Homo sapiens: one gene and its partners. The protein of the gene in region 1 interacts with the protein of each later gene in a pairwise test. Each region holds a gene or a part of one and is shown in the gene's direction. Other genes may lie near its edges.

What was found.
Region 2: the proteins of BRD1 (region 1) and CEP126 interact in a two-hybrid assay, tested with the Homo sapiens proteins (one large-scale study listed by BioGRID and IntAct).
Region 3: the proteins of BRD1 (region 1) and TRAF3IP1 interact in a two-hybrid assay, tested with the Homo sapiens proteins (one large-scale study listed by IntAct).
Region 4: the proteins of BRD1 (region 1) and SS18L1 interact in a two-hybrid assay, tested with the Homo sapiens proteins (one large-scale study listed by BioGRID and IntAct).

Annotation. Positions count from the first base shown.
Region 1 is NC_000022.11:49,815,256-49,821,393, reverse strand, and holds part of BRD1 (bromodomain-containing protein 1), read left to right. Parts: intron 1-407; exon of another isoform or gene 408-560; intron 561-3,010; coding exon of another isoform or gene 3,011-3,172; intron 3,173-6,138. UniProt on the Homo sapiens protein: Scaffold subunit of various histone acetyltransferase (HAT) complexes, such as the MOZ/MORF and HBO1 complexes, that acts as a regulator of hematopoiesis.
Region 2 is NC_000011.10:101,982,901-101,989,038, forward strand, and holds part of CEP126 (centrosomal protein of 126 kDa), read left to right. Parts: intron 1-3,931; coding exon 3,932-4,141; intron 4,142-6,138. UniProt on the Homo sapiens protein: Participates in cytokinesis. Necessary for microtubules and mitotic spindle organization. Involved in primary cilium formation.
Region 3 is NC_000002.12:238,347,721-238,352,537, forward strand, and holds part of TRAF3IP1 (TRAF3-interacting protein 1), read left to right. Parts: intron 1-1,043; coding exon 1,044-1,128; intron 1,129-1,604; coding exon 1,605-1,688; intron 1,689-4,817.
Region 4 is NC_000020.11:62,173,219-62,179,356, forward strand, and holds part of SS18L1 (calcium-responsive transactivator), read left to right. Parts: intron 1-1,298; coding exon 1,299-1,426; coding exon of another isoform or gene 1,427-1,513; exon of another isoform or gene 1,514-3,100; intron 3,101-5,963; coding exon 5,964-5,990; 3' UTR 5,991-6,138. UniProt on the Homo sapiens protein: Transcriptional activator which is required for calcium-dependent dendritic growth and branching in cortical neurons. Recruits CREB-binding protein (CREBBP) to nuclear bodies.

The DNA of each region.
Region 1 (6,138 bases):
TTTCTACCTATGAGTCAAAAAGTCTAGGGTTTGTATTAAGAGCTTCTGTATAAGAGGTCTAAAAATTTCAGCTTTACTGAAATTGAAGCAAAATAAACAAAATGTGATCTAACAAAATGAAGAGCCAAAAGTCTGAAGTGCTCCCTTCCCTGGCCAGTACCAGATGATGACCTGCTCTGGGAGAGGCCGGGCCTGGCCGGGCCGCACGCTCTCTGTTCTTTGGCTCCTGATGTTGGGTAGGCAGGACTGAAGGAGGCAGTGTTTGCATGCAGGACATGGGGGCTGAAGTGGCCAGGGCTGATTGAGAAGAAAACTCGACCTAAATATTTGAAAGCATGTATTGGAGCTAAACCGCGTACTGTGTGGTTCTGTTCTTTTCCTAACTTGGGAATAAACTATTATTTCAGCTTCGAGTAGAGAGAGAGAAACAAACCTGGACGAGTGTTCCTGGCCGCGGTCTCTGCAGTCTGGGTTTCCCAGTCTCCAGGAGATGCTGGTGCTTCAGGCCACCTTGCCACCAGTGGAGGAGCTCCCAGTGCGCCTGGCCTGTTGGCACCATGGTGCTGGACCCACCTCTGGGGTGGTTGTGAGGGGCAGGCTCTCAATACAGTACTGACTGCTGCCTGAAACCGGGTTTACTGCCTTGCTGTGGTCTGAGAGGCAGCTGATCTGGCAGCCCTGTTCTTAGGCCCTGGGCACTACCCCTGGGTGCATGTAGGAGGCCTCAGCTGTGCATTTGAATTCTGTGTAGATGAGGGTGAAGCTTCTTATTTTTTATTTTATGTTTAGAGACAGGGTCTTGTTCTGTTGCCCACGTTGGAGTGCAGTGGCGTGATCATGGCTTACAGTAGCCTCAAACTCTTGGACTCAAGCGATCTTCCCGCCTCAGCCTCCTCCCAGCCTCAGCTGGGAATACAGGCACGAGCCACTGTGCCTGGCCCATGGTGAAGCTTCTTGATGTGCAGCCGTGGGCGGGGATGCTGAGTCTAGTTGGTTATGGTGTGCACTAACCAATGGCTCCGGTGTAGGACCCACCTAGAGCATCTGAGGATGTTATGCTTCAGGCCAGCCAGTCACGCTGGAAGGGAGATGAGACCCCATCTGAGCAGCGTTTTAGAGATTTTAGAGAAAGAGGATCTTCCTTATTCCCTGTGGACAGAACAGAATCTGCCTTCAGGGACGGACTGCTTTTATAATTCTAGTGGTTTAAAAAATTAAAATTTCAAGTAAAAAAGATAGTTCTTTTTTTTCCCCCCTTTTTTTTGAGGTGGAGTCTTGCTTTGTTGCCCAGGCTGCAGTGCAGTGCGGTGATCTTGGCTCACTGCAACCTCCACCTCCTGGGTTCAAGTGATTCTCCTGCCTCAGCCTCCTGAGTAGCTAGGATTACAGGCACCTGCCACCACACCCGGCCGATTTTTGTATTTTTAGTAGAGACGGGGTTTCACCATGTTGGCCAGGCTGGTCTTGAACTGCTGACCTCAGGTGATCCACCCGCCTCGAACTCCCAAAGTGCTGGGATTACAGGCGTGAGCCACTGCGCCAGGCTAAAAGAGATAGTTTTAAGGTTATAATCTGTTTTTTTGTAAGTTTGATATACTATGATTAAATAATAACAGCGGTAAATAAACACTTTGAAAAACAGGCAGGGCTGGGTGTGTGGCTCACACCTGTAATGCCAGCACTTTGGGAGGCCGAGGTGGGTAGATCACGAGGTCAGGAGTTCGAGACCAGCCTGGCTAACATGGTGAAAACCCATCTGTACTAAAAATATAAAAATTAGCCAGGCGTGGTGGTGCGCGCCTGTAATCCCAGCTATTCAGGAGGCTGAGGCAGGAGAATCTCCTGAACAGAGTCCTGCTCTTCTGCTCAGACGGGTGCAGTGGCATGGTTATGGCTCACTACAGCCTCGACCTCCTGGGCTCAAGCGACTCCCCCACCTCAGCCTCTTGAGTAGCTGGGACCACAGGCATGTGCCACCATGCCCTGCTAATGTTTTTATTTTTTGGTGAGATGGGGTCAAGCAATCTGCCTGCCTCGGCCTCCCAAAGTGCTGAGATTACAGGCGTGAGCCACCATGCCTGGCCTTACATTGATTTATTGTTATTTTTTCTTTTCTGTTCTTCTTTTTTTTCCTGAGATGAAGCCTCGCTCTGTTGCCCAGGCTGGAGTGCAATGGCATAATCTCGGCTCACTGCAGCCTCCACCTCCCAGGTTCAAGCGATCCTCGTTCCTCAGCCTCCCGAGTAGCTGGGACTACAGGTGTGTGCCACGGTGTCTGGCTAATTTTTGTATTTTTTTTGTAGAGATGGGGTTTCACCATGTTGTCCAGGATGGTCTCAAACTCGTGACTTCAGGTGATCTGCCTGCCTTGGCCTCCCAGAGTGCTGAGATTACAGGCGTGAACCACCGCACCCAGCCCTATTTTTTCTTTTCACTTCCTCTCTCCAGCATACATCAGTTTTTATTAACGGATTGAGTTGCACCTGTATAGAATGACATTTTTTTTTTGAGACGGAGTCTTGCTCTGTCACCTAGGCTGGAGCGCAGTGGCACGATCTCGGCTCACTACAAGCTCCACCTCCCGGGTTCACGCCATTCTCCTGCCTCAGCCTCCTGAGTAGCTGGGACCACAGGCGCCCACCACCACACCTGCTAATTTTTTGTATTTTTAGTAGAGACGGGGTTTCACCATGTTAGCCAGGATGGTCTTGATTTCCTGACCTCGTGATCCATCTGCCTCTGCCTCCCAAAGTGCTAGGATTAGAGGCGTGAGCCACCGAGCCCGGCCAGGAGGACATTTTGTCTTTAGTCTTAAAGGAAAAGGGAAAGTCTTTTCCATTTGCACCAGTTTGAAATTAGGGCTCCCTTAACATGGATTACTGCAGGACTCATTCACATGAGAGTTCATACATGGGGTGAAAAGACAAACAGGGTTTCCTGATAACTCTTTTTGGTTATTGCATGAAATGAGGGATAAATACACGCATAATCTGTTTAACAAAACTCCTAGGTTCATCAGAATGCAAAGTAGAAAGTGTCTTAAAAGAGACTGTGATCAGCAGGCAGACGGCCTGTGTCGGTTTGGTTCCTTTGACTGCTTCAGATCTTCTAGGAGGAGCTCCTCTACTACGAGAGCCTGGACTTCAGCCTCACGGACAAGAACCTCAGATAGGCAAGGCTTTGTGATGGGTGCTCCTCCTACCTTCATTCGAATGAGGTTTTCCTCCCGCCTTCACCCTGATAGGGTGCTCCTCCCGCCTTCACTGGTGTCATTTTATTTTGAGTTTAAAAGGATGAACTGGTCTTGGTCAGCCTTAGGAAGGGAAGCATCACTCAGGTGAAAATACGTGGCGAACTTTAAATACCTAGATATTCTCCTCATGCATTTAAATTAGAGTGACTTGAGCTGTTAGAAAAGTTGACTGGGTGCGGTGGCTCAGGCTAGTAATCCTAACACTGGAAGGCTGAGGTGGGTGGATTGCTTGAGCCCAGGAGGTCGAGGCTGCAGTGAGTTGTGATCGCACCTTTGTATTCCAGCCTGGGTGACAGAGTGAGACCCTGTCTCTAAGGGGTTTTGCATGGTTATCCAGAGCAGTCTCTTGAATTTTGGTTGTCTTTGACGCAGCTGCATCTGGAGATCCTCTATGTGAGGCATGTTTAGAGAAAGAGAAACATTGACCCCTGGAATTGATATTCTTCCAAGAAATCTTTTAGTCTTGTTGGTAAAGGCAGTCCTCAGATGGTACCGGTCCCTTTGTTAGTGGTGAGCCTACAGAGATGGTGCCTGGTGTGCAGAGCGATGTGGTTGGATGGAGGTGAACAGAGCAGTCTAGGGCCCCTGGGCCGCCTGCTGGTCCTAGCCCATCACAGCACAGTCATTCAGCAGACATGCTGCACCAGCTGATTGTTTGAGCTTGGGCTTGGTGCACATGATGGAGTTTGTCTGGATCTCCTGTCTTGGTATTCCATAGGAAGATGAGTTGGTCCAGCCCATGTCCTAATAGATGTTGTTAGCAGGAAGTCTGAACTTGAACTATCTCACATGAAGAAAGTTCCTTCTGCTGCCTCTTTTTATTTCTCTTTGGCTTCATGAACAGTCATGCACCCCCAGTGCCATCCTTTTGAGCTCCCCAAGGCCTCTGCCAGACACATCACCTCCAGGGGTGACTCCTTGACCCACCGTGCCATCACCACTGGCTCTGCACCCCTTCTGAGCCATTCCTGGAGCTTGAGGCACTGTGAGGTCAGGGGAAAAGGGTCAGCGTGGCAAGGAGAGATGGTCACCCAAGCTGGGGTCATAGAGCAGCTTATGGATTTCCTGGAAGTCAGTGGGAACTCATTTGGGAACCCCCAAAATGAGTCCCTGTGGGGTGTCTGAAATGGTGGCAGAAGGGGCAGGAATGGGGTCCGGCAGTTCTCTTCCCTCAGGTCCTGGCGGATGGATAGCAAAGTCCTGTGTAGACAAGGTCACCCACAGGTGGTATATGCCGGCTGCTAAGGGCCTTGGGTGGCGGGCCTTGGCCCCCGCAGTCCAGAGAGTGTCTGTTTACTATTCCCTGCAGGGTAGGCACCTTGGGCCCCAGAATTCGGAAGGCACTTTTTTCCTACCTGGACTCACTTCCTGCAGTGTTGGAGGCCACCTGGCCCTAGTCTATTTTATAGAGACAGGGTCTCACTATGTTGTCCAGGCTGATCTTGAATTCCTGGGCTTAAGCAATCCTCCTGCCTAGGCCTCCCAAAGTGTTGAGATTACAGGTGTGAGCCACCTCGCCCAGCCCCAGCCTTAGTCTGTAGTCTAATGCTGGAGGGTAGTATGTTGACTCTGGAATAAAGATGTCACTATTCTGGAACTTTTTCTGGGGTCACTGTCGGGAGGCGTTGTCTCCCTTGAGCACTTGCTGCAGCCCCAGGCTGTTGACCTGCACAGCCGTCCTCAGAGGGTGGGGAAGCTGTTCTGTCTTGGGGGCGTTGAGTCCACTAGGTAGGCCCTGTGAGGATCCCAGCTGTCACCTAGTGGGTACCTGCAGAGGTTTTGTTTTGTTCTTTTAATTGAGGCGGGGTCTTGCTCTGTTGCCCAGGCAGGAGTGAAGTGGCGCAATCCTAGGTCACTGCATCCTTGAACTCCTGGGCCCAAGTGGTCCTCAGCCTCCCAAAGTGCTAGGGTTACGGATTAGAGCCACCGGCCGCGGCCCCCTTTGGCTTGTGTTTTTAAGTCTTTTTTTCCTCCATGTTTCTGGCTGTTAATTTTTTATAAAAGTTTGTATCTGGCATGGATTGAAGCAGGAGACACTGGCTCAGTGCCCAGTGGGGAGAGCCCTGTGTGGGTACCTCCCGGGCGGTGTGGGTGCATGAGTTGGCTGCTGCGGGTGGCACCGGGAGGCCCTGTGTGGGTGCCTCCCGGGCAGTGTGGGTGCATGAGTTGGCTGCTGCGGGTGGCACTGGGAGGCATGGCAGGGGCCATGAGGCCACAGGTGGCAGCTCCCTGTGCTTGACCTGCATCGGGTCTGGAGTGGCGGGCACTCGGGAAGGAAGCGCCAGGACGACACATTGGAAGGAGGAGCTGCAGGGCAGGTCCAGCCAGTGCCTGGGAGCTCGGGAGGGCACCTGGGTGGACGCAGCCTGCAGGAGCGCCTGCTCTCCTGTATGAGGAACAGACCTGAATGCCGTTTCAGACACTGACTCATTCCTGCCCTCCTGTGACTTTGTTGGTTTTCTGGGTTTTAGTGCAGATTGTAGCTGGCAGCTCACAACAGAGCCCTTCCTGGTGCAGGCTGACAGGCAGGAGGGATTCTCCTCTACAGAAATGGACATTACTATATCTGGAAACAGTTTTTTTTTTTTTCTTCTTTTTGAGATGGAGTCTTGCTGTGTCGCCCAGGCTGGAGTGCAGTGGCGTGATCTACGCTCACTGCAACCTCTGCCCCCTGGGTTCAAGCGATTCTCCTGCCTCAGCCTCCCGAATAGCCGGAATTACAGGTGCACGTCACCACGCCCAACTAATTTTTGTGTTTTTAGTGGAGATGGGGTTTCGTCACGTTGGCCAGGCTGGTCTCGAACTCCTGACTGACCTAAGGTAATCCGCCTGCCTTAGCCTCCCAAAGTGTTGGGATTACAGGCATAAGCCACTGTGCCTGGCCT
Region 2 (6,138 bases), on another chromosome or scaffold:
ATACCATACAGTTTATTTAGCATCCCCAAGGGGAAAAAAGATCCTCTCAGCCCTCTTCAGCTGCACTATATCTTTCCCATGCACACCCAGATTCCCCCATGTAAGCATGCTCACAAGGAGTAATAAAATGATACATGTACCAATGGCAGATTCCCCACGAGACCCCACATGGGGCCAAGACCTACATGCATTACTCACTGTATTTTTTTGCTTTTTCTCTGCTTTGTGATGTAAAGATATTGTTGAAAATATCAAAAAGACCTGAAGATACCCCTGTGGGTAGCAGTGATAAGAAAAAGAGGAAACATTTCTGTTTATCAATAGCCCAGAAAGTCAAACTTGGAGAAACTACACCAGCAACCTAAGTGTAAAATGTCTTATAGAAAAGGATGGTGTTGGAATGACCACAATATATGACCTGAAGAAACAGAAGGATAAACTGTTGAAGTTCTGCTTTGGAAGAGATGAACAGAAGTTAATGCAAAACATTAAACACTGCATAGGATTTCAACCATGAAGTCAAAGAGTGGATCCATCAGCGTCGCATGAGCACATGCCACTTAATGGTATGCTGATCATGAAACAAGCAAAGATCTATCATGATGAACTGAAAATTGAAGAGAACCATGAATATTCAACAGGCTGGTTATAGAAATTTAAGACACAGCATTATTTTTAAAGATTTGTGGTGATCAAGCGTCTGCTGATTACAAAGCAGCAGAGAAATTCATTGAAGAGTTTGCCAAGGTCATCGCTGATGAATATCTGACACCAGAAGAAGTATATGTTACTGATGAACATCACTGGTTTGGTGTTGTTACTCAAAAAAACATTGACTATAGCTGATGAGACAGCCCCTACAAGAATTAAGAATAACAGAATAACTGCTAGGATGTGCTAATGACTCAGTCACGCCCAAGTGTAAATTTGCTATGATAGGCAAAAGCTTGTGTCCTCACTGATTTCAAGGAGTGAATTTCTTACCAGTCCATTAATGTGCTAACAAAAGGACATGGATCACCAGGGACATCTTTTCTGATTGGTTTCACAAACACTTTATATCAGGGAAGCTGGATTGAATGATGACTGCAAGATTTTGTTATTCTTTGACAACTGTTCTTTTCATCCTCCAGCTGAAATTCTCATCAAAAATAATCTTTATGCCACGTGCTTTCCCCCAAATATTACTTCATTAATTCAGCTGTGTGACCAGACTATCGTTAGGTAGATGAAGAGTAAATACATATAAACACTTTCTTGAACAGCATGCCAGCAACAGTGAACAGAGATGTGGATGTAGAAGGTTTTCAAAACGAGTTTAGCATGAAAGATGCCATACATGCTGTTGCAAACACTTGGAACACAGGGACTAAAGACACAATTGTGCATTCCTGGCACAACCTCTGGCCTGCAACTATGTTCAGTGATGATGAACAAGGTAGTGACTGAAGGATTCTGTATGTCAAGTGAGAAAAAATTATGTCTGACCTCATTACGTAAGCAAAAAAATATACCTTCAGAGTCTATCAGTAAGCTGGAAGAAGTGGATATCAAAGAGGTTATTAACATCGATAATAAGACTCCAGGTGTTTTCATTGACCAATGATGAAATAGCCAAAAGAGCTCTGAATTAAGATGATTGTGATAATAGTGATGATAATGGCATTGTTAACACTGAAAAAGAAAAAGGTGCCAATTGACAATATGATGAAAATGTGTGATGGGTTTATTGAACGACTAGAGCAGTGTACACTCATAACAACAAGAAATTATGTCAGTTTATAAAATCAAAGAGAGGCTTATAGGACAAAAAAAGACATTGTAAATGAGGCAAAAGTCTCTGGAAGAAACATTTTTTAAGGTCATCTAGCAGAATATTTCCTCATCCCTAGAGGACCCACTTCCTTGTGCCTCAGCTGCTTCTGATGTTTCTTCTCACCTAAAAAAATAAAATACAGTGTACAGTAACCATCTGGTCAAAATGTAACATAATACCTAAGATTGGAAGCCTGCCATTGTTCCTTGTTGCTGTTGTTGAACAGCCGACACAGGTATTCTGGTGATGTTACTGTGGTGCTTAGTTGCCCTGAACACATTATTTTCTGACAGTGTGAAGGATACATCTTATTTTTTACTGTTAAGTACTTACGTGTGAATAGGTGTAAGAACATTATTGCTTTTCAGTAGATATAAATTTGGAGTCAGGAATAACAGTGATACCAAACAACCACAGATAATCCACATAGGTTGCTGATACAGTGATATCTTTGCTTTCTGATGGTTCAATATACACCAACTTCATTTCATGGACAAAATTATTTAAAATATTATATAAAATTACCTTCAGGTATGTGTATAAGGTATATATGAAACATAAATGAGTTTCTTTTTTTTTTTTTTTAAGCAGAGTCTCACTCTGTCACCTAGGCTGAAGTGCAATGGTGCAATCTTGGTTCATTGCAACCTCCGCCTCTCAAGTTCAAGCAATTCTCCTGCATCAGCCTCCCAAGTAGCTGGGATGACAGGCGTATGCCACCATACCTGGGTAATTTTTGTATTTTTAGTTGAGATGAGGCTTCACCATGTTGGCCAGGCTGGTCTTGAACTCCTGACCTCAGGTGATCCACCCACTTCGGCCTCCCAAAATGCTGGGATTACAGGCATGAGCCACCGCATCCAGCTGAGTTTCATGTTTAAACCTAGGTCTCATCACCAACATATCTCATGTGTATGCAAATATCCAAAATTCTAAAAAAGTCCAAAACCTGAAACATATCTAGTCCCAAGCATTTTGGACAAGGAATACTTAACATTTACAATAATGAAAAAAATATACAAAAGTGTTGCTCTTCAGAAGTGTAAAGTCTATTAGGGAAGACTGGCTTTAAATAAACATGTTTTATTTAGTCTTTTCTTACTGATGTCTCCATTACTTTTAAGCTTTGTCAAAGAACCTTCCCAATACAGACATTTAGAAACATTTGTTTCATTTTCTTCTGCTTTAATTAATGGGTTGATTCCTTAAGTTTGTCTTTAATTTCTTACGAATTTGTTTAAACAAACAGTGGGAAGTAAAACTCTGAATTGATTTCTTTTTTTTTTTTTTTTTTTTGAGACAGAGCTCCAGGCTGGAGCACAGTAGCACAATCTCAGCTCACTGCAACCTCCACCTCCTGGGTTCAAGTGATTCTCCTGCCTGAGCCTCCCAAGTAGCTGGGATTATAAGCACCCACAATAACACCTGGCTAATTTTTGTATTTTTAGTACAGACGAGGTTTCACCATGTTGGCCATGCTGGTCTTGAACTCCTGACCTCAAGTGATTCACCTGCCTCAGCCTTCCAAGGTGCTGGGATTAGAGGCATGAGCCACTGCACCCAGCCCAAATTGATTCTTTTATAAGCAAAAACTAATATGTAAAATCATCTTTCCCTTCTGTCAAATATTTGATGCTTCTTTGATCACATGTTCTTATATCTAATTGGGTCTGTTTCTAGGCTGTCAGTTCTGTTTAGCTGATCATCAAAGTTTCTAATCTTAAGGGTTTTTTGGTCTTACTTTGTTATAATTCATTATAACTACTATTATAAAGACAGTCTTCTTCATCTTTTTTGTACTACCAATGAATAACAAACATGACAAAAACTATCTGCATTATATAGTTTTTTTCTTTAGTTCAAGTAATACTCTGGGAATTTTTATTAACTCACTGCCGTCATTTTGAATATCCTTTTTTAAAAAACGAAGGATAGGAAAATGCTAGATAGAGGATCCTGATAAATGAAATCAAAGTAGCAGATATTTGCTAGGTTTCTGCTTGTAATATGAATACATACAGACAGTTAAGCATGTATAAGTATATGTAAGTATATATAAGGGCTGATCTCAAAGACAAAAGGGGTTCAAAGAATAACTGATGTAAGTTTCTGTAGTTTCAGATAGTACTTCTGAGTTTTTGATGGCTGAAAACTTAGTGAAAGCATCAGTGCCGGAGGATGAGATTCTGACTGTCTTGAATAGCAAACAGATACAGAAATCAAATCTACCTTTAAATAAAACTCAACAATTCAACATCTGCACACTGTCAGCTGAAGAACAGAAGATCCTAGAGTCCCTTAATGATCTCAGTGAAAGACTACATTGTAAGTATGGAAGAACACCTTTTATAAGAAATACTGCATTTATACTTAGACAATTTTAATTTAAACTTTAATTTAAAAATTGAAAAGAAAAATACAAAATATATCCATATTACCAACTACCTGAGTGCATAACCATTCAGACTATATTTGAATACTATTTCAAGTATGCCATATCATTTATGATGATGTCAACTTCTTTGGCAGACTTATCTGTCTTTTCAGAATATATGAATAGACTTCTGTTTCAGCAATGGACAGGCTACATATCTATACTGACCATCCATCAAAACAACCATAAATCCTTGATTAAGTATTTTTTAAACCTGCAATATAGTGATGAGCTAGTAAGAATGTAAGACATTCTTAAGACCAATAACTAAATGTAGATAAGAACTCAAAAAGATAAGGAGAGTGCAGCAGCTAGCTCTTGTCCTGAGGATATTTAACTCATGGGGTGAAATTGAACTTTGCTTTCCATGGCCTCATAGGAAAAAGGGAACAGGCCTACTCAGGATGAGTAGTCTCACAGAAGATCTTTCCACCATAAAGCTGGGCCACCCGAAGAGCTGTGCACTACACATGCATACACAGAGGAGGCAGCGCAGGGAGAGGGAATTTTTTTCTAAAAAAAAAAAAAAGGCTTGCATTTTTTAAACTTCAGTATTGAGCAGGTGATAGAGGAAAAATGATCCCTGAGAATGTAGAATCACAGTCTAATACAAGTATCACACTAATTTACAGCCCATACTCACATTAACTGAATAGTTCTTAAGATCTCAAGCAAAGAACTTAATTTAGAATGATCCCAAACTGGTAGTATTCCAAAACACTTGGGAAAAGTACATTTATGTATCTTCTGCACCTATATTCCAGTCCTCAAAGAATTATCACAAGTGAAATCCAAGGAAAATGAGCAGCCTACAATTAAAAAAAAAGTAAATAACTTAATCCGTAATGAAAAAAGGCACCAAGAAAAAAAATCAAAAGAATCCACAAAACAGAATAAACAGACCCAGAAAGGATTCAGATAATGAAATTACCAGGCACAAACTATAAATAACTATGCTTGTATGCTCTAAAGTTGTCAGAAATAAGCTTTAAAATGCAGAAATGCAGTCATTTTTAAACTTAAACATGCAGGGAATAAGAAACTATAAAGAAAGAGCAAACAGATTTGAAAAATGGCCCAAATAGAATGCCTGGAAATTGAAAATATAATAATTGAAATGTAAAATTTAGTAGGTGGTTTAACCACCAGATTACAGACGTCTGAACAGAGAATTAGTAAACTAGATTATGAATCAAAGAAATTTATCCACAGTATATCTTAGAGAGACAAAGAGATGGAAAATATGATATAGAGCTTAAAAGACACAAAAGAGTAAATAAAAAGGTCTGAAAGGCTAAGACAATATCTAAAGTGATAACGGTTGACAACTTTTCCAATTTGATGAACAATGCCAATCTACAGATTCAACAACCCAACACATTTCAGAGTAAATAAAAAGAAATGACCACTAAGATACATCCACAATGAATGTTAATCAGCAACAAAAAGGCAGAAAACAATGAAAAAAAATCAGGAGATATTGACAACATGTCCAATGTGCTGAGAGAAAGTAACTTTCAAATTTAATACCTTCTTAACATGAAAATGTCTCTCAAGAAGGGGGGTGAATTAAAAATATGTTCAGACAAAAACGAAGAGACTTTGTTAACAGCAAATATATGTATATGTATATATATATATATATGTCACTTTATGATGAGCACTTATGATGAGCAAAGTCTTACTTCAGAAGAAATACATAAGATTTTTATATGCACTTGAGAACATAGCCTCAAATATATAAAATATTTTTAACCACGGTGGGTGATTTTAACATACCATTGTCAGTAATTGATAGAATAGATTTTAAAAATCAAATAGATGTATAAAAATTGACTATGATTAACAAACCTGATCAAAGGGGCACGTTCTTTGTAAGTAAACGTAC
Region 3 (4,817 bases), on another chromosome or scaffold:
GGGTTCAAGCAATTCTCCTGCCTCAGCCTCCTGAGTAGCTGGGATTACAGGCATGCACCACCACGCCCGGCTAATTTTGTATTTTTAGTAGAGACGGGGTTTCTCCATGTTGGTCAAGCTGGTCTCGAACTCCTGACCTCAGGTGATCCACCTGCCTCGGCCTCCCAAAGTTCTGGGATTACAGGTGTGAGTTACTGCGCCTGGCCAACTACCCTAATTTAATTTGAAATTTAATTTATATGTTTTAAGTTTGAAAACAATACATTTCAGGATTTTTTTCCAGAATATAAAGTATATTTCTAATATTCAAATTCTGACTATTTTCTGAAGTGTTAATTCCTTTTACTTTAAATAGTGGAGTAAACTTGTCTTAATAGTTTAGGCCTTGTTATTTACTGATTAATTCTTTTTATCAAAATGAAGAAAACTTTGTTCAGATTATAAACATAATATGGTATACCAATGTAGAAAAATTTAAAAATGCAAAAAAAAAAGAACAAAAATTAAAAGCACTGGTAATTCTACTGCTTATAACTTAAATGAATATTCTTCTAGAACCCTGTATATATATATATGCATATGTATATAATTGTTAGATATATTACTGTACTGGATTGTTTCACACAAAAGGGAGCTGACATGTGACTGTACCATAATTTACTTAGTTACTGATTGATTGTCAGTATTACCAGTGACGATGGGTGAACATCTTGACATGTGTCCATTTCTCCTCTTGGGTTGTATTTCCTTTAAGTGCTCAGTTGATCAGCCTGCCTTTTGAATTTTATTTCTGAAGTAGTTGAACCAGTTTGTATTCCCTGGGTTTGAGTGTGCCCATTTTCCCAAATCTTCACTGAGTTTAGATATCAGACATCGATTTTCTCTTCATCAACATGATTGATGGAAAAATTGCTCATTTGTATTTGCAATTACAAATGTATTTGATTGCAAATAACTGCAAATACAGATGCAAATAGTATTTTCAAATAGTTATCTATGTGTGTTTTCCTTTGTGAATTGCTAATTGATTGTCATTTGTTTAGAAGGAGATGCTGGACCTGCTGGCCAAGATAAGTCTGAGGTGCCAGAGACTCCAGAAATTCCTAATGAGCTTTCATCCAACATCAGGTCTGTGTGCTTTGAATCCCTTTCCCTCAGCAGAGTGATCACACCTAGGACACTGCTGTGCTTCTCTTTCTGGCTGCTGCTATTTATTTAGTGCTTGAGCTAACTTATGAGGAATTACTTATACAAAGAATACAAGAAGTATATCAGTTTTCTGTACTGGAGTTATATCACTATATAGTGATATAATATTTTGGAGATTTAGGGGAATTCAAAATTATAGCTGAATTATGTGATGTTTTGATTAGTGACAGTTGTTGGTATTTTGAAATTACTGAAAATACAAGTGGAAAGATGGACACTTTCTGATTGGTCGGGTTACTGGGACGTTCCTCCTCTTCTGCAGAGTAGCGTGTCCTAACCAGCACATTGATTATGGCTTGGAGATGAGAGTTAACATTCACCTGGGCTTTCTTTTCCAGTTTGAAATGTATAAGCCTTTCATACTCCTTTTTTGGTTTTCCAATATTTGGGTTTAGAAGAATTCCTCGGCCTGGGAGTGCAAGACCAGCCCCTCCCCGGGTCAAACGGCAAGACAGCATGGAGGCGCTACAAATGGATAGGTAAGGCTGGCTCAGCAGGGCAGTTCCAGCCACACAGTGTGTTCTCCAGTGGGCATGGTGCCTCCGCTAAGAGAAGGGGGAGGGAAGCAGCACATGGTGCTGGAAACATGCTATTGAGGAACAAAAAGTGAGGGTAGGCCCTCGCCTCACACCATAGGCCAACAGACATGTCAGATGGATGAAAGAGAAAAACCATGCATACATGTAAAATACATCTTCACATCTATGGGAAAATGTTGGACTGCATTTCTCTGACCCCTAGATTGAAGACTTTCTAAGCGTGAAAACAATAGGGGAATTAGGAAAAAATAGGGGAAAAAAATTAGGGGCTTAATTGCAGAAAAATTAAAAATAGAAGGTGATCAAAATGTTATAAGCAGGCTGGGCCTGGTGGTTCACGCCTGTAATCCCAACATTTTGGGAGGCCGAGGCGGGCGGATGGCTTGAGGTCAGGAGTTTGAGACCAGCCTGGCCAATGTGGTGAAACCCCCGTCTCTACTAAAAATACAAAAGTTAGCTGGGCGTGGTGGCGTGTGCCTGTAGTCCCAGCTACTCAGGAGGCTGAGGCAGAAGAATCACTTGAACCTGGGAGGTGGAGGTTATAATGAGCTGAGATTGCACTGCTGTACTCCAGCCTGGGCGACAGAGTGAGACTATCTCAAAAAAAAAAATAAAGTCATAAGCAATATAAAGACAAACAACAGATAGGATGGATCAGAGTGGGTTTCAGATCAAATAAGAGGCAGGGATTGGAGGCAGGAGTAGATGTGTTTTTCTAGGAGTTTTGCCACAAAGAGAAGGGAAGGAATAAGACTAGAAAGTGGGAAAGGTGGTGTCAAGGGGAGTTATTATTTTTCTAATGACGGGAATGATCCAGTGGAAAGGGGAAATTGATGACGTAGGCGACGTGGGACAGGGGTTTGGTGGAGCAGAGTCCCCGTGTGGGTGTGGGAACGGGCGCGGAGGTGGAGTCGGCACATGGTGTGATGCAGATTCTTAAGGTGATTTTCTGGTACTTATTTTTCTCATGAGCCGTAAGAGGGTCTGGGGGAAGAGGAGTGTCAGAGGAGAGAGGGGCTGGGTGAAGTCGCTGTGCACGAGAGTGGGCTAGTGAAGAGACTGGAGCAGAGGTTTTCCTCTAGGGGTGATCCTACTTTGGGGACACTGGGCCATGATCTGGAGACATTTTCTGGTGTTCTGATGAAGGGGAGGGGTTAGGGCAGGGCAGTTGCTGAACCTCCTACAATGCACAGGACAGTCTCCACCACAAAGGAGGATGGGCTGCCTGCCCATAGTGCCTGGGCGGAGGCCGTGGCTGACAGCTGACTTCAGGGCAGCATCTGGTGGACTTGGGCGTAAAGAGACAGAAGATGGTGTGGCGGGGCCTGTTCTGCAGCTGCAGTTGGCTACACCTACAGGCACTGGGGGGCACAGGCTGTATTAAACAGGGCTCGGCTGTGCCAAGCAAGTGCACCGAGAGAGAAGGGAAGGAGTAGGAGTATGTGGAAGCGCCACGGTCATGACCAATGTGGGATTTATGCCAGTGAGTGAGGGAGGAGCCCTCGGGGTGAAGGTCAGGAGGAGGCATTAGGATTGAGAGGCTGAAGGTGCCGGATGGATAGAAGGATTGTTGGAGTCAGGTCCTAGGGCGGTGAGCTGGGAATATAGATAGTGGTGGTAAAGGAGTGGGGCGCTTGGATTTGAGGTTGGAGCTTGCTGTTAGTGGTAGTGACAGGGGTGCCCCTGGGAGTGGGCGTCGAGTGTGGGAGGTGGGATCATCCCAGCAGGGTTCAGGGACCCAAGGCCAGGATTTTGGAAGGATCATTTCTCAATACTTGAAATCACAAGTAAGACAGGAGCACCGTTGGTGAGAGTGGCGGGTCCAGGAGGACTGGGTGGGACCATGGGTTGGCAGCTGATGGCAGCAATGATGGGGTCGAGGGTGACAAGATTTAAAGTTGGCAGTTTTTAGGGAGAGTGATCTGGAAGCCGAAGCAAGCATAAGGAAATTACTGACCTTCCCTCTGGGCCCGTGACAAGAGGCCGGTGGGAGGAGCAGCAGCTGCAGCTGAGGGCTGTGGGGAAGCTGTGTCCTGGAGAGCAAGGCGGGACAGAGAGGGCCTGCCGATCACGGCAGGCACAGGGGCGCAGGTGTTGAGGAGGTGGATCGTGGGCCACAGTGAGGGTGTGCTGGGAGCGTGAGAGACGAGGGACGGGAGCCTGGACTTCCTGGTACTGACAGAGCAGCGGGTTCGAAGTGAGGTTGGTCCTGGCGGAGCCACACAGGTGGTTGTTGAGTGTCTCAAGGACCCAGTTGAGGAAGTCGAGGATGTTTGGGGCAATGGGTGTTATTTTCAGAGGTCGTTCCCAAGTGTCTACATTCCCTCTGGACCTTGTGCATGGCACTGAAGCAAGGGAGGATTTTGGTGTGTGTGTGTGTGTGTGTGTGTGTGTGTGTGCGCGCGCGCGCGTGTGCGTGCATGTGCTTGTGTGTATGCGTGTGTGTGTGTGTGTGTGTGTATGCATGTGCACGCATGCAGCACTGCGATAACGGGGCAGGGGGAGTTAGGTGATTGCTTAAAGCACAAGTGTGTAGGGAAGAAACAAAGGCAGGAGGGGCCATTAAGGAGCCTGTAGAGTGTTTGGGTCGGGGGCTCACATTTGTACAGAGTGAGCTGACAGTGGCCTGAGTGAGGAGGAGTGGGGCAGCTGTAGGTGGGGCAGTTCTAGTAGGTGGCCCTGGAGAGCATGAGAGAGCCCTTGGGTGAAGGCTGTCACCAAGGAGGACAAGGTCTGGGGCTGGAGGGCCAGGCTGTTGGACGCTGACTTGCCCAGAATGATGTGGACTTGGGTGGAGCGCAGTGTGTACGTGGTGCTGAGCGGGACATAGGGCAGCCACTGTGACTAGGAGTTGAATGAGGGGCCTCCAGCTGGCTGTGTGAAGAGAGGTCTGGGGTCAGCCCTGGTCAGTGGGACCCCAATGTGGCCCCTGCCCTGAGGTTTGTGACCCAGGGCAATAAGCGCCTCCAGGTAGAAAGCAGCAGGTGAAGGGCTGGTGTCACTGAGAGCGCAGTCAGGGGAGAGGCGGAGGCCCTGAGGGTCTTTGTGCAGTAGAGGGCATGACGAGGC
Region 4 (6,138 bases), on another chromosome or scaffold:
GGGTCTCAGCCTTCACTGCAGCTTACAATCACCCAGGAAACTTCTGAAAAATAAGGTGTGGGCTGCCCCAGGTCTTTTGTTGGAGCAAGATCTCAGTTCTCAGGATGAGCTCCACACACGTGGTTTCTTATGAGGCACGTGCCTGATTCTGCTGTGCTTATTCAGCCCTTTACAGCCATTACTAATTAAATAGTATAAAAATTACTTGAGGCCAGGCGTGGTGGCTCACGCCTATAATCCCAGCACTTTGGGAGGCTGAGGTGGGCGGATGACCTGAGGTCAGGGGTTCAAGACCAGCCTGACCAATATGGTGAAACCTCGTCTCTACTAAAAATACAAAAATTAGCTGGGCATGGTGGTGGGGGCCTATAGTCCCAGCTACTCAGGAGATGAGACAGGAGAATTGCTTGAACCAGGAGGTAGAGGTCGCAGTGAGCCGAGATCACACCACTACACTTCAGCCTAGGCGATAGAGTGAGACGACTCCTCAAAAAATAAAAAAATAAATTACTTGAGGCTCAGTGTGGTGGCTCATGTCTATAATCCCAGCACTTTGGGAGGCTGAGGCAGGAGGATTGCTTGAGCCCAGGAGTTCGAGACCAGCCTGGATGACATAGTGAGACCATCTCTACAAAAAATACAAAAATTAGCCAGGCATGGTGGCACACTCCTGTGGTCCCAGCTACTTGGGAGGCTGAGGCAGGAGAATCACTTGAGCCTGGGAGGTGGAGGTTGCGGTGAGCCAAGATCACGCCACTGCACTCCAGCCTGGCTTGGGTGACAGAGTGACACCCTGCCTAAAAAAAAAAAAAAAAATTGGCCTCTATCAGTTCTTGCCGGAGCCTTTGACTTAGCCTTCCTAGAGACGATGTCTCTGTCTCACCTGCCTGCAGGTTTTCAGCAGCTCCCGTGGTAGTTCAGTGACAAGTTACAGCAGCCAGTGTGACTGGGGCCAGCGGGTTCTGGAGGGCTGTCCTGCCTTCAGGTAGCAGCAGTTCTGGGGTGATGGAGAGAGCCCATCAGCCCTCGCCATGCTGGTGGGGGGCCTGGGGCACAGTCCTGGGACCTCACAGGACTGGAGGGGCTGGTGAGTCGGTTACGTGGTGCTCTCGCTGTACAGAGTTAACGTGGAGCCACGTGCAGGTGCCAGGTGTTCTGGAGATTGACAAAAGGCTGATGCATTGAGACGGGAATTTTTCAAGGAGAAGAGGAAGTTTTAAAAAAAATTTTTAAGTTAAGAAAAAAAAAGAAAGAGGTGTCCGTTTTGGCCGGCCTCACGGTTCCTGGTGTCTTCTCAGGGTCTGCCCAGGGAGCCCCGTCACAGTACCCCGGCTACCAGCAAGGCCAAGGCCAGCAGTACGGAAGCTACCGAGCACCGCAGACAGCGCCGTCTGCCCAGCAGCAGCGGCCCTACGGCTATGAACAGGCAAGCTTTCTGGATGTTTCCAGATGTGCCCATCCGCCGCGCCTGTCGAGACATAATGAAGATTTCTCTTATGGCCATGAGGAATAATGAGCTGGAACTAACTGGCTTCCAGGGTTCCTTCCAGAACGTTAAGTCTCTGAGCCTGTAAGGTTTTGCAGAATTGCCTCTGTGTATACGCTCACCTCAGTCATCCAGCTGGCTTTTCATACCCTAAGCTCACCGTTAGATCTGCACGCCTGGTTCTCACATTCATTCACTCTGCCAGTGTTTGTCACGTACTGGGTACGCGTCCGGTCTCTGCTGAGTGCTTGGTGTGTGGCCGCGACACGAACCCTGCACTTTTAGAGCTTATGTCTCGCTACAGAGACATAAGGTGGTCCCACAGGGCCAGACTGTGCTGAGGACAGAGCGGGGGGCCCCAAATGGAGCCCGCCTTCCAGATGGGGGCGCAGGCGACCGCATTTGGCCCGTGTGGGCAATTCCAGGACGAAGACACAGCGGGGAGTGGCTGGCAGCCCCAGGCTCAGCCTAGGGAGGGGGAAGCCCTTTCTGCCCAGGAACAGTGAGCAGGGCTTTGAAGGAGCTGAGGAAAGAGCAGCTTGGAAGATGGAAGAGCGGGAGCTCTCGGGACAGTGAGGAGGCCGGTGTGGCGGGAGGTGACAGGGACAGGTGGGCGTAGGGGCCTCCATAAAGCAGACATCGCTTTCCCTCTGAGTGGGATGGGGCCCCTGGAGGAGGACAGGGTCTGTGTGGTGGGAGCACTGCAGGAGCGAGGGCCTCCTAGAGGAGAATGAGCCAGGCAAGGGAAGAGGGCGTGCCAAGGTCCTGAGGCACCAGGAGGTTTGTCCCAGTGAAGGCAGCCTGAAGGAGGCTCGGTGGCTGGAGCACAGGGCATATGAAGGAGAATGGTCTGGGACATTTTTTGGAGCCTCCTTTGAGAGAGTCCTTAGCAGGAAGTGGCTCTGTGTTGGTGACTCTGAGGTGGCTGGAGGTGTTAGGGACACTTTACACTGCCAGTGAAATTTCAAAGCACTACATCGCTCAAGTTTGTTTTTCTCAGGGAATTGGGTAGGTAAGAGGCCAAAGACTGTTTTTTAAATGCTTCTCGTCCTCCTTCTTCAAGAGGGCAAAGGGTCACCAGGTAGATGTAGAGAAGCCTAAAGACCATGTAACACAGTCTCCCTGCCAGGGCACCGTACTCGGCCATGCCTGGGAAGGGCACGCTGATGAGGCATTTACACAGATGTCAGGAGGGCTCTGGTGTGCTCTCAGGACACTGTGAGGCCACTGTAGCCGACGCAGGGGCCGCCTCTCCCCAGTGTGTGCTGGGCGCTGGTCAGCGGGGAGCAGGCCCCAGCTTGGCCCTCCAGGTTTGCACAGGAGTGTCATGCTGGAGTCTGGAAGGACAGCAGTCTGCATCCTGATGTTAAATTAGAATTATATGTGAATGATTCTGATGAGACGCCATACCTCCTTCATACAGTCCTGAAAATAACTTATTTGGATTTTGTGAAATAAGTGAATGTCCTAACTTAATTATAAGACTGAACCAGAGGACATATAACTTTATACCTACCTATGAAAAGACCGTGACCGGTCGTGGTGGCCCATGCCTGTAATCCCAGCACTTTGGGAGGCCAAGGCAGGAGGATCACTAGAGCCCAGGAGTTTGAGACCAGCCAGGGTAACATAGCAAGACCTGTCTCTACAAAAAATAAAGTAGTCAGGCATGGTGGTGCATGCCTGTAATCCCAGCTACTTGGAAGGCTGAGGCACGAGGATCCCTTGAGCCCAGGAGGTCGAGGCTGTAGTGAGTCGTGATTGCACCATTACACTCCAGCCTGGGCTACAGAGAGCGAGACTTTGTCTTAAAAAAAGGAAAAAGAAAGGCCAGGCGTGGGGGCTTACACCTGTAATTCCAGCACTTTGGGAGGCTGAGGCGGGTAGATCACCTGCAGTCAGGAGTTGGAGAGCAGCCTGGCCAACATGGTGAAACCCCATCTCTGCTAAAAATACAAAAATTAGCCGGGTGCCTGTAAGCCCAGCTATTGGGGAAGCTGAGGTGGGAGAATCGCTTGAACCGGGAAGGCAGAGGTGAGTTGAGATCACGCCACTGCACCCCAGCCTGGGCGACAGAGAGACTCCATCTCAAAAAAAAGAAAAAGACACAGAGCAATGGGGAAGATAGAGAATAGAATTTCACATCTGGGGGGAAATGTGTCCATCTAACTGCAAAATATTAAGATAGCCTTTAGTCAGCATCCAGTGTAGCTGGCCGTGGCGCTTTGGCACAGCACTGCCGGCGCTGGGCGTCTCCTAGGGGCCATTGTGCACACTGTGTTATGTTTGCAGCACCCCTGGCCTCCACCACGATGCCAGTAGCACCCCCATTGCCCAGTCTGACAATTTAAAATGACTCCAGACATTGTCAGATGCCCCAGGGGCAAAACTGTCTCCGTTTGAGAACCACTGGGCTACACTTAAACATGTGCTGAGGCGGCCAGGCGCTGTGGCTCACGCCTATAGCACTTTGGAAAGCAGAGGCGGGCGGGAGCAGATAGAGACGGAGGTTGCAGTGAGCTGAGATCGCGCCATTGTATTCCAGCATGGGCAACAAGAGCGAAACTCTGTCTCAAAAAAAAAAAAAAGGTGCTGAGGCATTGGGGCTGCCAGTGGTTTTATAGGGCTCCAGGGCTGCCATGCCTTCAGCTGAGCAGCTCTGGATTTGAGGCTTTCCGTCTTACCCAATGGTGCAGGAGCAGAAAGACATCAGAACAGACTCCCACTAACTAGAATCATCACAGGCAGCTCTGGGAATGAGAATGTGACGTGTTCGGTCAGGCTGGAACAGCTTTCCTCCCTCCCCCACTTCCTCGCTGGGGGCATTCGGGAAATCTGATCATTAACTAGCTGGGGACACATGGAGAACAGGCATGCAGATGATGATCCGTTGTCTTCCCCTGTGGCAGTCTCCCGAGTGGCTTTCACCACAGGTCCGATGCTCCGTTTTGCTGCCCAAGGAATTCTGCCTTGTGGCCTTGTGGGGCACAGGCTCTCTAGTTTCTCTTCTTCATGTTGTTTTTTGTTGTTGTTTTTGAGATGGAGTCTTGCTCTGTTGCCCAGGCTGGAGTGCAGTGGCACGATCTCGCTCACTGCAGCCTCTGCCTCTCGGGTTCTAGCAATTCTCCTGCCTCAGCATCCGGAGTAGCTGGGATTACAAGCACGTACTATCACACCTGGCTAATTTTTGTATTTTTAGTAGAGACAGGGTTTCGCCATGTTGGCCAGGGTGGTCTCGAGCTCCTGACCTCAGGTGATCCTTCCAAAGTGCTGGGACTGTAATCCTACAGGCATGAGCCACTGTGCCTGGCCTTTTTTTTTTTTTTTTTTTTTAAGACAGGGTCTCACTCTGTCGCCCAGGCTGGAGTGCATTGGCAGGAACATGGCTCACCGCAGCCTCAACCTCCGGGGCATGCGCCACAACATGTGGCTTATTCTTTTTTTTTTTTTTTTTTTTTTTGAGACAAGGTCTCACTCTGTCACCCACACTGGAATACAGTGGCATGATCTCGGTTCACTGCAACCTCCACCTCTCAGGCCCAGTGATTCTCCTGCCTCAGCCTCCCAAGTAGCTGGGATTACAGGCACGTGCCACTACCACCTGGCTAATTTTTTTTTTTGTATTTTTAGTAGAGATGGGGTTTCACCATGTTGGCCAGGCTGGTCTTGAACTCCTGACCTCAAATGATCCACCCACCTCGGCCTCCCAAAGTGCTGGGATTGCAGGCGTGAGCCACTGTGCCTGGCCGAGGCTAATTTTTTCTCTTTTTTTGTAGAGATGGGGTCTTGCTGTACTGCCCAGGCTGGTCTCAAACTCCTGGGCTCAAGCAGTCCTCCTGCCTCGGCCTCCCAAATTCAGATTTGTTTTTGAAACAGGGTCTCACCCAGACTAGAGTGCAGTGGTGCAATCACGGCTCACTGCAGCCTTGACCTCCTGGGCTCAAGCGATCCTCCCACCTCACCCTCCAAGTATCTGGGACTATTGGCACACGCCACCACACCCAGCTAATATTTGGATTTTTGTAGAGATGGAGTCTGGCCATGTTGCCCAGCCTGGGTCTTTAGATTTTTTTTTATAGATTGAAACCCATCACCCTGGTCGTCCCCGCTCCCATTTTCTTACTGTAGCAGGCTCGGGGGCAGATGGTGTTTGCATTGGCTCCCAGTGGGGCCAGCTTGGAGGAGAGCCTTCCTGCATAGCAGGCCCAGCATAAGGCTCTGATGCCAGGCCTGGCACAGGCCCGGCCGCAGCGATGCCAGTGTGTGACTGAACAAATGAACCTTTGGCCCTGTCTACGTTGTTAGCCCCAGGCTTGGCCAGTGGCTTCTGGAAAGTCGTTCGCTGCCCCGCAGAGATGTGAGCAGAGGTTGTTTGCTTGCTGTTGTCCCTCCTACCCCCTGTCCGGGCTGGGGTGGACGTCTGTCTTCCTTTCACTCATTACTATAGGGGTGTAATCTGTGTCTTGATCTCTTTTAGGGCCAGTATGGAAATTACCAGCAGTAAGGGACACACATTCTGGCTGGAGCCCTTGTGGTAGCGTGTTCATCCAGGGGCCGGATGGGCTGGCGGCAGCTCTGGTGAATTGTGACATGTTGGTTACCTGTTCGCCCAGTGCCACGTCTGCATGTGAAGCGTGCTCATTTCATGCTGG